Homo sapiens: one gene and its partners. The protein of the gene in region 4 interacts with the protein of the main gene of each other region in a pairwise test. Each region holds a gene or a part of one and is shown on either strand. Other genes may lie near its edges.

Region 1 (3,500 bases), on a different chromosome or scaffold from region 4:
GGGTACAGATGGTATTTGGTTGCATGAGTAAATTCTTTAGTGGTGATTTGTGAGATTTTGGTGCACCCATCACCTGAGCAGTATACATTGCATCATATTTGTAGTCTTTTATCCCTCACCCCTCTCCCACTCTTCCCCCTCAAGTCCCCATAGTCCACTGTATCATTCTTATGCCTTTGCGTCCTCATAGCTTAGCTCCCACATATCAGTGATTAGAACATACTGTGTTGGTTTTCCATTCCTGAGTTACTTCACTTAGAATAATAGTCTCCACTCTTATCCAAGTCACTGCAAATGCTGTTAATTCATTCCTTTTTATGGCTGTGTAGTATTCCATTTTGTGTGTGTGTGTGTGTGTGTGTGTGTATATATATGTATACACCACAGTTTCTTTATCCATACATTGAGTGATGGGCATTTGGATTGGTTCCACGATTTTGCAATTGTGAATTGTGCTGCTATAAACATGCATGTGCAAGTATCTTTTTCGAATAATGACTTCTTTTCAGAAGAGATTGCTGGATCAAATGGTAGTTCTACTTTTAGTTCTTTAAGGAATATCTACACTGTTTTCCATAGCAGCTGTGCTAGTTTACATTCCCACCAGCAGTGTAGAAGTGTTCCCTGTTCACCCTTTTCAACAAATTGTGCTGGGATAATTGGCCAGCCACATGTAGGAGAATGAAACTGGATTCTCATCTCTCAACCTTATATAAAAATCAACTCAAGATGGATTAAGGACTTAAACCTAAGACCTGAAACTATAAAAATTCTAGAAGATAACATTGGAAAAACCCTTCTAGACATTGGCTTAGGCAAGGATTTAATGACTAAGAACCCAAAAGCAAATGCAATAAAAACAAAGATAAATAGATGGGACCTAATTAAATTGAAGAGCTTTTGCACAGGAAAAGGAACAGCAGAGTAAACAGACAACCCACACAGTGGGAGAAAATCTTCCTAATCAATACATCTGAAAAAGTACTAATATCCAGAATCCACAATGAACTCAAACAAATAAGTAAGAAAAAACAAATAGTCCCATCAAAAAGTGGGCTAAGGATATGAATAGACAGTTCTCAAAAGAAGATATACAAATGGCCAGCAAACATGAAAAAATGCTCAGCATCCCTAATGATCAGGGAAATGCAAATCAGAACCACAATGTGATACCACCTCACTCCTGCAAGAATGGCCATCATCAAAAAATCAAAAAGCAGTAGATAGATTTTAGTGTGCATGTGGTGAACAGGGAACACTTTTTTTTTTTTTTGGAGACAGTTTTGCTCTTGTCACCCAGGCTGGAGTGCATTGGCGCAATCTCAGCTCATTGCAACCTCTGCCTCCCAGGTTCAAGTGATTCTTCTGCCTCAACTTCCCTAGTAGCTGGGATTACAGACGTGTGCCACCACGTCCTGCTAATTTTTGTATTTTTAGTAGAGATGGGGTTTCATCATGTTGGCCAGGCTGGTCTTGAACTCCTGACCTCAGGTGATCCCACCCGCCTCGGCCTCCCAAAGTGCTGGGATTACAGGCCTGAACCACCGTGCTGGGCTGGGAGACATCTTCTAAGTACTTGGATAGTGTGGGGGGACAGGGTAGACACCTACACATAAATGGATGTTGTTAGGAGAGAGAAAGGGGGACATGGATACTCAGTGAACACACAGAAATGGCCACTATTGTGGTGATGTTGGTAATTAAACACCAACAGCCTTAATTATGCAAGAATTCTTGCAAATAATAGGGTTAACCATATGTTTAGACAATTTGGAGTAAAGAAAGCTTTAAAAATTACTTATACATATTGGTAAATTTAACATGAAGAGGGATCTAATAAAATATATGATATTGATATGCAGAAAAAGTCTAAGTATGATATTCCATGCTTATAGGAAATTTAATTTTGCGGGGAGAGTAGGCTGGAAGTTCGGAGTGATTGTTTCCTGTTACAGGCCAAAAAATTTGTTTGGTTACTTAGTGGTAGCATTTTGAGAGGAAAGTTTACAGAAAACTAGGGTTATTTTGTGATTATGCTTGAATTGTCTTTATTGTTTCCAAGGCATCTTTTTTTTTTCCTTCTAGTTATCAAGATGTTAGGTTCTGTGCCCTTGTGGGCCTTCCCTCTGCCCAAAAAAAGCATGGATGAGCAGAGTAATATCATTAAAATGGCAGTCTTTGTTAGTTTTTCTAGAGAAGATGGTCTCTTTGGTAGGCTGGGTGTATCTTCGGCAAATGAGTTATTTATACATATAAACTATTAAGTTGGCAAGTATTTCTTTTTTTTCTTTTTCTTTTTTTTTTTTTGAGATGGAGTTCCACTCTTGTCGCCCAGGCTGGAGTGCAATGGTGCGATCTCAGCTCACTGCAACTTCCACCTCCCGGGTTCAAGCGATTCTCCAGCCTCAGCCTCCCAAGTGGCTGGGATTATAGGCGCCCACCACTACGCCCAGCTATTTTTTTTTTGTATTTTTAGTAGAGATGGGGTTTCACCACGTCGGCCAGGTTAGTCTCGAACTCCTGACCTCAGGTGATCCACCCACCTCAGCCTCCCACAGTGCTGGGATTACAGGCATGAGCCACCATGCTTGGCCTAAGTTCGTAAGTATTTCTGTGTAAAACTGCAATTTCAGCTACATAGGTACTTTGTGAATGAATCATAGTAGAAGTTATTTAAAAATTCCTTTAAGTAAAAATTATAAACATGAACTAGAGCTATATATATCAGTGTGAATGAATCTTAAAAATATAAGGTTAGACCTCGAAAGCAAGTTGTATAAGAATATGTATAGTTTGCTGTTATTTATATAAATTTTAGAAACCTACAGAACCACTCATACAATGCTGGTAGAGTATAAATTGGTATCCTACCTCTACATGAGAGAGTGACAGCATTTATTAAAATTAACCTAACAATTCAACTTCTAGGAATTATTTTATAGATGTACTCGTGTATGAAATAATGGGTTATTCGCTGCCATATTGTTGTAAATATTAATACAAAACTTTCGAAGTAACCTTTCTAATAGTAATAGTTATGGTTTATCCATATAGTGAAATACCTTGCAAACATTAAGGAAGAAAAAGGGAGGAACTTTGTATATTTTAGAGAACAATTTCCAAGGTGTATTTTTAAGAGGAAAAAGTAGAACAGTGTGTTCAATATGCCTACCACTTATGTATAAAAGGCAGGGGCAAATCTGTATCTTAAATGTGACTGCTTTTATATATAGAGTATGTCTCTTTAAAGATACACACAAGACTGGTTACGTTAGTTGCTCAGTATAGGGGACTAGGTAAAGGAGGACATTGTGTTGCACCATAGATGCTTTTGTACTTTTGAACTGTGTGTATAGTGCAGGTATTGTGTTATCAAAATATATGCAATGACATTTGTAAAAATAAATATGAAAAATAATGTTACTATATTTTTTATGGATTCCTACCCATGTAAAAATATTTAAACGTGGGAAACACAAACACCAAATTCAGGATAGTGG
Region 2 (3,240 bases), on a different chromosome or scaffold from region 4:
CAAAGATTTCCTCTTGCTTAGAAAATGCTGCAAAACCATCTTCTAAAAATGGTGACTTTTGCCCCAAACACAGGAGGTCCACCCAGGTCTTCTGTCCTCACCCATCAGGACTGGATCCCCAGTTCTTACCTGGAGAGGTGCTAAGGAGCCGGGCCATGAGGAGCCCCAGGGTGGCCACATTAGCAGCCAGAAGCAGCCTTCCCTGTTGCTGCACTAGTGCTGGTAGCGACGTCATGAGGGTGTTCATTAGAGATGTGAAGCAGGCGTCACGCCTGGAAAAGAAAGGGGGGAAGGATGGAGGTAGGTGGGGGTCTAGTACAGCCAAATCAAGCCCTTGGCAAGAAATTAGGCAGTAGGGTGATTAACTTTGGGCCCCAAACATAGCATCTGGGGGGCAGAGATTGGAACAAGCAGACATGCTGAGACAGTACCTGGGGGTTCCAGCATGCCGAATCCTTGTGCGGGGCTGGCTATGTCTACTCTGAGACCCCCATGCTACCACTAACAAATCCATGGGCATGGGGGGCAAAGTAGGAGACTGAGAATTGAGGCAACTGGGCAGCCTCCTTTGCCTCCTCCGGCCTCCTCCCCCACCTCTCCCGAGCCCCTCACTTGATCAGCCCCGGTGCGGTGACCACGAGGTTGAGGAAGATGTGGCAGCAGGTCTGCAGGCCAATCTCCACGCTGTCAGGCAGCACCGAGGTGTCGTGGCCAGGGGATGTGAGTTCCCACTGCTGCAGGAAATACTTGCACAGAAGCGAGGGGGCCCCTTCCTTGATCAGGATCTCCCGGGGCCCATCTTCAACGGTCAGGTGGCACCAGCCAGGCAGGAGGAGCCTGGGGATGTGGAAGGGACAGACGTGTGTGGGATTGGGAGAGATGAAGGCACATAGATTCCCTTTTTAGGGCACCTTGCCTAAGAGAAATGGAAGTAGGGGAGAAGGACACATCCTCGCAGGTACCACAGAAAAAGTACAAGCTTCAGAGTCGCACAACCCAGGACCAAACTTGGGCTCTGCCACAAAGTGTGACTGTGGGCAAGTGACTTTAATCTCTATGAGCCTCAGTTTCCTAATCTTTCATATGTGAATGAGACTTCTGTTATATTTACCACGTGGACCAAATGAGATCATTTTGGTAAAGGGTATAGCAAAATACCTGGCTCGTAGTAGGTGCTCAATAAGTATAAGTTCTCTTTTAACTGAGAAATCTGGGGTTGGCAAGTGACACCTGGCAGCCGAGGAGTCCTGTGGGAACAAGCCCCCCAAAACAGAAATAACCCTAAGGGATATCTCATGGCCCAATCAGGAAGCCTGGCACAGCTCAGTTTGTGGGGAGGGGTGTCCTTGTGTTAACGCTTTTCGGTAGAATGATCTAGCTGGACAGACTGTAACTACAGACTCACCGGAGAGCGTCTCCTGGCCAGGTGGGCCCTGGGGTGGTGGGGGAGATGGCCAGGTTGGCCACCTGCTGGGAAAGGTCATTGGCCTCCTCGGCCTCCTCGTAGAGGGTCTTGGCATAGCGGACGAGGAAGGGCAGCAGCTGGCACACCTCCTTACGCAAGGATGAGGTCTCCTCGGCCAGCCAGGCACCCAGGATCCGCACCGAGGCAAACACAAAGGGCTCCTTCTGCTTCTCTGACCCCACCTGTTGCCACAGGACCCCCTTGAGATGGAGCAGGACCAGGGACCCTCCCTGCCTTGCCAGAGGCCAGCCAGCTAGAAATAATACAACTAGAAGGAAATTCTGGCCTGTGAGCCTTTCAAAGGCAGGCCCCAACCTTTATTCTGTCCCATGAACCCAGCACCTAGCATGTGGTAGGGACGCACACAAGGGACTGGCACAGAGTGAGCCAGGCCCTCCACACACGTCTGCTGAGTGAACTGGGCCTGAGTGAATTGAGTGACATGCCCCCGTACTCGCTGAGGCTCCAGTCACATCTCCCTAACTCCCTACCTCTGGAGTGTCTCAAGGCTAGAAGGAAATTCATAGGTCAAAAGCTAAGTTAAACACCCTTTACAGCAGCTCTGACCTGGGGTGGGAGGGCAGGTTCCTGGCTACTGTGTAACTGCTCCCAATGGTGGGAGTGAGGGGATGCTCTCTTTTGTGCTAAGTCAGAAAAAAGACATGAGCTTAGCGTGGTGCATGGAATATATGGCTGGTGAGCTCGGTGGCTGGAGCAGGCCATTAAAGAGACCAGAGTCATGACTGAATCCCTGTGGGACAGGACAGCTGGCCTCTCAGGCGGGGAGGCAGGAGGGGATGTAGGGGAGGCAGGCGAATTGATCTAGCCAGACCTCTATAGAGGCCAGGAACCAGGCAGCCCTGCTTCTCTTCCCTGCACCATTAGAAGTTCGGGTGTGTGCGTGTATAAAACAATGCTATGGAGTGAGCAGAACAGACTGCTTCAATCTTGTGTGCATGTGTTGGGGAGAGGTGTGTGGCGTGTAGTGTGTGTGTATTGGGGGGAGCGTTTGAGTGGGAGGTTACTGTGTTGTGTGTGTGTGCGTGTGTGTGTACTGTGATGTGAGTGCACATATGGTGTGTGGTATGGTGCTTGTGTGGAGGGAGGGAGAGAGAGGGAGGTTGGGCCGCACACTACTCCCTGGAGTGCTGGCTACAGTATCAGCTTGTGTGGACATGCAGCTTCGCTGTCTCCCCATTATTCTCCTCCCCCTTGCCTCCCAGCTCCAGCACTGGCTCCCCCCATACTGGGCCCCCTCTGTGGGTCACTGCACCCTCACCTGCAGCAGGTAGTGGATAACAGCCCCTATGGCCTCCTTCATGACGCTCACGAGCTGCACCTTCTGTGGCTCCTTAAGCAGTGACTGCTCACAGCGAGTGCATTCCTGGATCCCCAACTCCATGAGGGCATAGCAGGCGGTCACCACATCCTCTTTCACCTCCGTGCCCGTCTCCTCCAGTGCCAGCCGCACTTCCACGCACGCCAGATTCACCAGCAGGGCCAGGAACTTGCTCCCGGAGCTGCCCGCCGGGATCCAGTCGGAGCCGCAGGCGTGTGCCAGGCGGGCTGCCAGCTTCAGTGCAGGGTTGCGCTGCCAGGAGCTCAGCTTGCTTCCCAGGATGCGTGCCAGCCCGGCCTGCAGATCCCGGTAGCATTCAGGGGGCACGGTTGTCGGGGGCAAAAAGAGGGGCAGCAGCTGGCAGAGCTCAAACTTGCTGGCATCCTCAGCTTTCTGGAAATCCTCACTGAGGCCCCGCAACACGGCCAGCAGGTCG
Region 3 (3,500 bases), on a different chromosome or scaffold from region 4:
TTTCTCCCATTCTGTGGGTTGTCTCTTCACTTTGTTGATTGTTTCCTTTGCTATACAGCAGCTTTTTTACTTGATGTGATCCCATTTGTCCATTTTTGTTTTGGTTGCCTGTACTTTTGAGATCTTTCTTAAGAATTCTTTCCCCAGACCACTGTCCCAGAGAGTTTCCCCAGTGTTTTCTCTTGGTAATTTTATAGTTTCAGGTCTTATATTTAAGTCTTTAATCCACTTTGATTTGTAAAATCAGGCTTTTATCAGCCTTTTATCAGGTTGGGGAAGTTTTTTTAATCATGATTGGATAATGGATTTTGCCAAATGTGTTTTCTGCATCTATCAAGATGATCAGATGGTTTGTGACCACATTCTACTGTATAGTGTATTATATTAATGAGTTCAGATGTTAAACCAACCTTCCATTTCTAGGATAAACTCCCCTTGATCATAATGTATTATCCTTTGTATATGTTGCTAGATTTGGTTTGCCAATATTTTGTTGAGGATTTTTGTGTCCATATTCATGAAGGGTATTCATTTGTTATTTTCTTGTGATGTCTTTGTCTGGCTTTGGTATCAGGGTAATACTGACCTCATAGAACAAGTGAGAGTTTCCTTCTCTATCTTCTGTTAGAGTTTTCAAAATACTCATGTTGTTTCTTCTTTAATGGTTTGGTAGAATACATCACTGATGCCATCTGAGCCTGGGCTTAACCTTGTATAAATATTTTTAATTACTAATTTAATTTTTTTACTTGTTATAGATCTATTCAGATTTTCTATTTTTCTGTTATTTTTTTATCACTATTTTTTTGGTATTTTTTATCTTTTTAGAGTGTTTTTCCAGTGCGTTAGCTTACATATGGGTAAGTTTGCTTCTTAACTAGCGTACACTTTCACTAGTTAAGAAACTAGTCATAATGGCTTCTTTTTTTTAACTTTTTTTTTTTTTTTCTGAGACAGGATCTTGTTCTGTCACCCAGGCTGGAGTGCAGTGGTGTGATCTCAGCTCACTGTAGCCTCCGCCTCCTGGGCTCAAGCAGTCCTCTCCCGTCAGCCTCCCAAGTAGCTGGAGAAGCCGAGCGCCACCACACTCGGCTAATTTTTGCAATTTTAGTGGAGACGGGGTTTTGACATGTTGCCCAGCCTGACCTTGAACTCCTCGGCTCAAGCCATCAACCCATCTCAGCCTCCCACAGTGCTGATATTACAGGCATGAGCCACCGTCCCTGATTGATGAGGTTTTTTATTTCCTAAAAGCCACTGCCCTGAGGGCCCCTGCCCCTTCCTCAGGCTCCCCTACATCTCTCCACAAGTCAGCCTCCAACGGTTCACACCTGGAAAAGCAGGGGACCTTCAGAACTGAGCTCCAGCCTAGTTGGCACCTATATAGATTGGTTGGCCCTCCTGCTATTTCAGTTATTATTTTGAACATCACCACTTGGAAGACTGAGACTCCACTTCAGACCTCTTCTTCCTAACACCCTGATCTGGGGCTGATTATGTGCTTTAACATTCTACTGGGCAGGTCTGGCAGAAGGAACAGTATCAACTGACTGAGTAGGTCTCATTGGCAGTTGTGATTCAGAGACCTAGAAAGCTGAACCCACGGCTGGCAAGAAGAGGATGGTTTGTGGGACCTGGGCTGATGTCTGATGAAATTTTAAGCCCCAGCTATAGCTACTACAAAGAAAAGTGGCTGATGATAAGCATGTAACTCAAAGTAAGTGAACTGAGAAGCATGTTTTTTGTTTGTTTGTTTGTTTGTTTGTTTGAGACAGTTTCGCTCTTGTTGCCCAGGGTGGAGTGCAGTGGCACAATCTCGGCTCACTGCAACCTCTGCCTCCCAGGTTCAAGCGATTCTTGTGCCTCAGCCTCCGAGTCGCTGGGATTACCAGGTGTGTGCCACCACACCTGGCTAATTTTTTGTATTAGTAGAGACAGGGTTTCTCCATGTTGGTCAGGCTGGCCTCGAACTCCCGACCTCAGGTGATCTGCCAGCCTTAGCCTCTCAAAGTGGTGGGATTACAGGCATGAGCCCCCGCGCCCTGCCTGAGAAGTATGTTTTTATGTTGAGGATGTTACTGTGTGATGCCACATACATTGAAACACATACATTTAAAGTAAGGCCACAGACTCAAATGCCTCTAGAAGCCAGACAGGTAGCATACCTCCTCCTTTCATTGATTCAGAGACGTACATTTTTTTTGGCATTTGAACATCTCTGAAATTAGAGTGAACGTTACAATTGCAAGTCAAATGGTGTATAAAAAAGCAGCATCTTTATAGTCAGTGGTGCTTTAGATTAGACGAAATAACAGAAAATGAGTGGTGTTGGCCAGGAAAATTATATCCTTCTCTGTTGGCCTTTCACTTTGAAAGAGAGAAATGGATACAGAGACCTACTTTCCTACAATAAGACACAAGAACAATGACAAATGGGAACGACTTTGCTGCCTTCATGTCCGGTAGCCAATAGGGATTGGTGGCAACAGGCAAACTGGAGAGTACCCTTGCCCCCAGGGCAGCTCCCCCTCTTCCCTAGCTGATTATTGCCTGTGGTGGCATAGATCTAGTGTTGACAAGTGTTCTGAGTTTTCAAAGGAAGTCAGAAACCCCAAAATCTACATCTTCATGTGAAACTCCTAATTTTAAAATGATGGCTCAATTTTTTTTAACTGGCGAAAAAAAATATATATATACAAGTTAGATGAGCCTATGAGTGCTCAGAATAAATATAACCTCTCTTTTAAGGATGCAATATTAAGAGGCAGCATGAGACAAACCAGTTTTTACAATTAAGCCAAAAAAGAAAAGTTAAATCCATTTCGAAGTTTAACACTAGGTTCAGAGGCCCAGAATAACAAATACTGCAGGGCCTCTTACTTATTTCATCTTTAAACTTTCTTTTCTGCCTCCCACTAAATGGAAGATAAGAAAATATAGTTAAATCTATTGAAGATGTTGCATTCCTGTTTATAAAAATGTATGATCACTTTTTAAAATGCAGGCTTAGGTTTCCAAAGCAACAGCATTTGCTTCCCACTGCTGTAGACTGTGGTCAGTGAAAGGCAGGATGATGTCATGGGAAACCCCCAAATTATGAGAAGACCAGGGTGCTAATTCTGGCTGTGTGATGTGCAACTGATTTAGGTTCATTTCATCGTCTTTATTTATAAAATGGGGATGATAATAGCTACCCTCTGTACCTTACATGGTTGTAAGGGCCACATGAGATAAAACATGTGAAAGTATAAAGTGTTATGTATATATTAGTTGGTATTGCCCAAATCACATGGGTAGTTGGGACAGCACAGGTTCTTGAATCTCAGATTCTCCATCTCTGGCTACTGCTCTTTCCCTAGACTGCAGCACCTGTTGAAATGGTCATCTTATCAGCCAGTGGGGTTGAACAGATGAGGAAGCATAAGGCAAGAAGTTATTAGAAAAAAGTTAGCCAACATCTTAGGATCTCAAATAGCACTGTGTCTCTGTACAACAGGGTG
Region 4 (3,500 bases):
CTCAGCCAAATAGTAATAAAATAGAATATAAACTTTTGTTCTGTTACTGGGACCTCTTTCAGCCTAATAACAAAAGTAATAATAATAGAATAAAAACCTTTGCTCCAGGTTCTAGAACCTCTTTCAGCCTAATAATAATAATAATGATAGAATGAAAATTTTTGTTCCAGGTGTCGAGACCTCTTCCAGCCTAATAATAATAATAATGTAATAATATAAGCCTTTGCTACAGGTACCAGGACCTGTTTCAGCCAAATAATAATAACAGCAATGATAATAGAATATAAACCTTGGCCCCAGGCACTGGGACTTCTTTCAGTCAAACAATCACAATAATAATAATAATAATAGAATATGGATGTTTGCTCCAGCTTTCAGGACCTCTTTCAGACAGATAATAATAACCGAGTACAAACTTTTCTTCCAGGTATCGGGACCTCTTCCAGCCTAAAAACAATAGTAATAATAGCATATATATCTTTTTTTTTGTTTTCTTCTTTCTTTGAGACGGAGTTTTGCGCTTGTTGCCCAGGCTACAGTGCAATGGCGCCATCTCGGCTCACTGCAACCTCTGCTTCCCGGGTTCAAACGATTCTCGTGCCTCAGCCTCCCGAGTAGCTGGGACTACAGGCATGTGCCACTACCACGCCCGGCTAATTTTGTATTTTTAGTAGAGGAGGGGTTTCACCATGTTGTCCAGGGTGGTCTCAAACTCCTGACCTCAGATGATCCACCCACCTTGGCCTCCCAAAGTGCTGAGAGTACAGGCGTGAGCCGCTGTGCCTGGTGCCAGCATAAAAATCTTTGCTACAGGTACTGAGACCTTTTTCAGCCTAATAATAATAACAACCGTAACAATAATAATTAGAATATAAACCTTTGTTACTGGTACTGGGACCTCTTCCAGCCTAATCTTCATAATAATAAAAATAATAATAATAATGGAATTGAAACCTTTCCTTCAGGTTCCAGAACCGCTTTCAGCCACATAATAATAATAATAATGATAATAATAATAATAAATAGAATTTAAACTTTTGTTTGAGGACTGGGACCTCTTTCAGCCCAATAGCACAAATAATAATAATGGAATGTAAACCTTTTCCTCCCAATTACCAAAACCTGTTTCAGCCAAATAATAATATGATGATGATGATGATGGAGGATCTGATACAGCTGTGTCCTGTCACTCAGGTCGGACTTAGGAGGCCTCTTGAGATTCTTTTCCCCCTCCGTTGACTGTGTAATCCAGGGGCCCCACCCTAACTCGGCTGCAGAAGATGCAGTTTGGGGGTTCCTCGTTTTGTGGAAGTCCCGGTCATGTTATTCATTCTCTCAGCACCTTAGAACAAACCAGGGTGCTGGCATTGGCCACAGGACCCCCCTCCTTGCACCCCAGTCTTGGGAAGTGGCACTGCTGGGCTCTGGCAATGCCCAGCTCACCTGGCACGTGGCGGCGTCTCCCTAAAAAGCACTGGGCGGGCACCGTTGACGGAAAGCCAGCAACGCAGGCCGCGACTGCCCGTGAAGACGGGGGGCCTTTCTAAGACCTCCACTCATTATTTCGGGCAAAATTAACCTTCAGAATACCTTGCTTTAATAAAGTACCAGAAACCGGAGGGCTTAAAACCATAGCTTATTCTCTCCCAGTTCTGGAGGCCAGAAGTCTGTAATCAAAGTGTCTCAGGGCTGCGCTCCCTCCGGAGGCTTACGCGGAGGGTGCTTCCTGCCTCTCCCAGCTCCTGGGGGCTCCTGGCGTCCCTGGGCTTCAGGCCAGCCACATCATCACTCTAGTCTCTGCCTCTGTCTCCATGTGGCCTTCTCTGTGTCTGTGTCTCCTCTTCTGTCTTTTATAAGGACATCTGTCACTGCATTTAGGGCTCACTCAAATCCCGGATGATCTCATCTCCAGATCCTTAACTCATGAGATCTACAAAATTTCTAATAACCAAGTAAGATCTCATTCCACATCCTGGGCTTTAGGCTGTGGACAGATCTTTCTGCGGGCCACTGTTCAATCCACCATGATTTTATCCAGTTCATTGTGGAGGCTCTAGAGGAGGATCCTTCCTGCCTCTCCCAGCTCCTGGGGGCTCCAGGCGTTCTGGGTTTGTGGCCGCATCACTCCAGTCTCGGCCTCTGTCTCCATGTGGTCTTCTCCTGTGTGTCCGTGTCTCCTCATCTGTCTTCTATTAAGGACACTGGTCACTGCATTTAGGACCACCTCAATTGAGAATAATCTCATCTAAAGATCCTTACCTTCATTATTAATACATCTGCAAAGACCCTTTTTCCAAACAAGGTCCCATACACAAGTACCAGGTGGATACAGATTTTCTTTGGTAGGGGAGGACGCTTTTCAACCCACTATAGTCATCATTGAAATATGCCTCCTTGCACTGACTGTATCCCAACACTCTGAACGTGCCTGGGTGGTGCATTTTGATATTTACCCTCCTGAGCACTGTACTGGACACTTGGAGACACAATTACACCTTTTAACAAAGCCCAGCTGTCATTTTGGGCAACCCAGTCACAGAGGTGGCCTCCTGAGTGGCAGCTGGAAGGGCCTGTATGTGTGAGCATTCAACCTCAACAGGAACCCTGGGGACTGGCTTCTGGGTCATCTAAGCCTCCACACCGACTGCCTGATGTTTGCACAGGTGTGTGATATTTGCCCAGTTGGGCCTTTCTGCCCACAGGTGTGACTGGACACAATGGGCATTTTGAGAAGTTCCAGGGATTGAGAAATCCATGCTTCTTCAGACGTGCTTACAGATCACGGATGCACCTGTGACGTTCCACATGGCTTCATTTTAAACCATAAAGTTTGAGAAGAGTGTGCAGTGCCTCTTAGCCATAGGAAAGCTGGCTTTAGTCAGATGGAGGTCCTGTTTGGCTTCTTTAATGCAGTGAATGAAGCTCAGGTGGCATTCAGAGAGTCCTGCTGTGATGGTTGGCAGTGGGGGGTCTGCCTGGCCACTTGTGGATTCTTCTATGTAGGCTTCATCCCCAGAAAAGATCTACGCAGCTTTCCCACGTGGCAGGTGCTTGGGAAACTCTTAGGACAGGAACAACAAGCCCCTGCGATGACAGAGGCATTGTCAGGCTGGGCGCGGTGACTCACGCCTGTCATCCCAGCACTTTGGGAGGCCAAGGCGGGTGGATCACCTGAAGTCAGGAGTTCGAGACCAGCCTGACCAACATGGTGAAACCCTGTCTCTACTAAAAATACAAAAATTAGCCAGGCGTGATGGCAGGTGCCTGTGATCCCAGCTACTGAGGAAGCTGAGGCAGGAAGATCGCTTGAACCCGGGAGGCGGAGGTTGCAGTGAGCTGAGATCACGCCATTGCACTGCAGCCTGGGTGACAGAGCGAAACTCTGTCTCAAAAAAAAAAAAAAAAAAAAACTAAAGGCACTTGTCAGGTACAGCCCTGCAAAAATGCCGTGCTCACTCGCAAACCTGTATGTTGACACGTGCGGCATCGCTGCAGTCGGA

What was found. The genes of interacting proteins can lie anywhere in the genome.
Region 1: the proteins of ZBED1 (region 4) and PRKAA1 interact in binary tests that used the Homo sapiens proteins (3 or more experiments, as listed by UniProt).
Region 2: the proteins of ZBED1 (region 4) and NCDN interact in binary tests that used the Homo sapiens proteins (3 or more experiments, as listed by UniProt).
Region 3: the proteins of ZBED1 (region 4) and TTC23 interact in binary tests that used the Homo sapiens proteins (3 or more experiments, as listed by UniProt).

Annotation. Positions count from the first base shown.
Region 1 is NC_000005.10:40,791,875-40,795,374, reverse strand, and holds part of PRKAA1 (5'-AMP-activated protein kinase catalytic subunit alpha-1), read left to right. Parts: intron 1-3,500. UniProt on the Homo sapiens protein: Catalytic subunit of AMP-activated protein kinase (AMPK), an energy sensor protein kinase that plays a key role in regulating cellular energy metabolism.
Region 2 is NC_000001.11:35,560,799-35,564,038, reverse strand, and holds part of NCDN (neurochondrin), read right to left. Parts: coding exon 2,745-3,240; intron 1,648-2,744; coding exon 1,406-1,647; intron 838-1,405; coding exon 613-837; intron 273-612; coding exon 130-272; intron 1-129. UniProt on the Homo sapiens protein: Probably involved in signal transduction in the nervous system, via increasing cell surface localization of GRM5/mGluR5 and positively regulating its signaling. Required for the spatial learning process.
Region 3 is NC_000015.10:99,239,582-99,243,081, reverse strand, and holds part of TTC23 (tetratricopeptide repeat protein 23), read left to right. Parts: intron 1-1,522; 5' UTR 1,523-1,717; intron 1,718-3,500. UniProt on the Homo sapiens protein: Participates positively in the ciliary Hedgehog (Hh) signaling.
Region 4 is NC_000023.11:2,490,977-2,494,476, reverse strand, and holds part of ZBED1 (E3 SUMO-protein ligase ZBED1), read left to right. Parts: intron 1-3,500.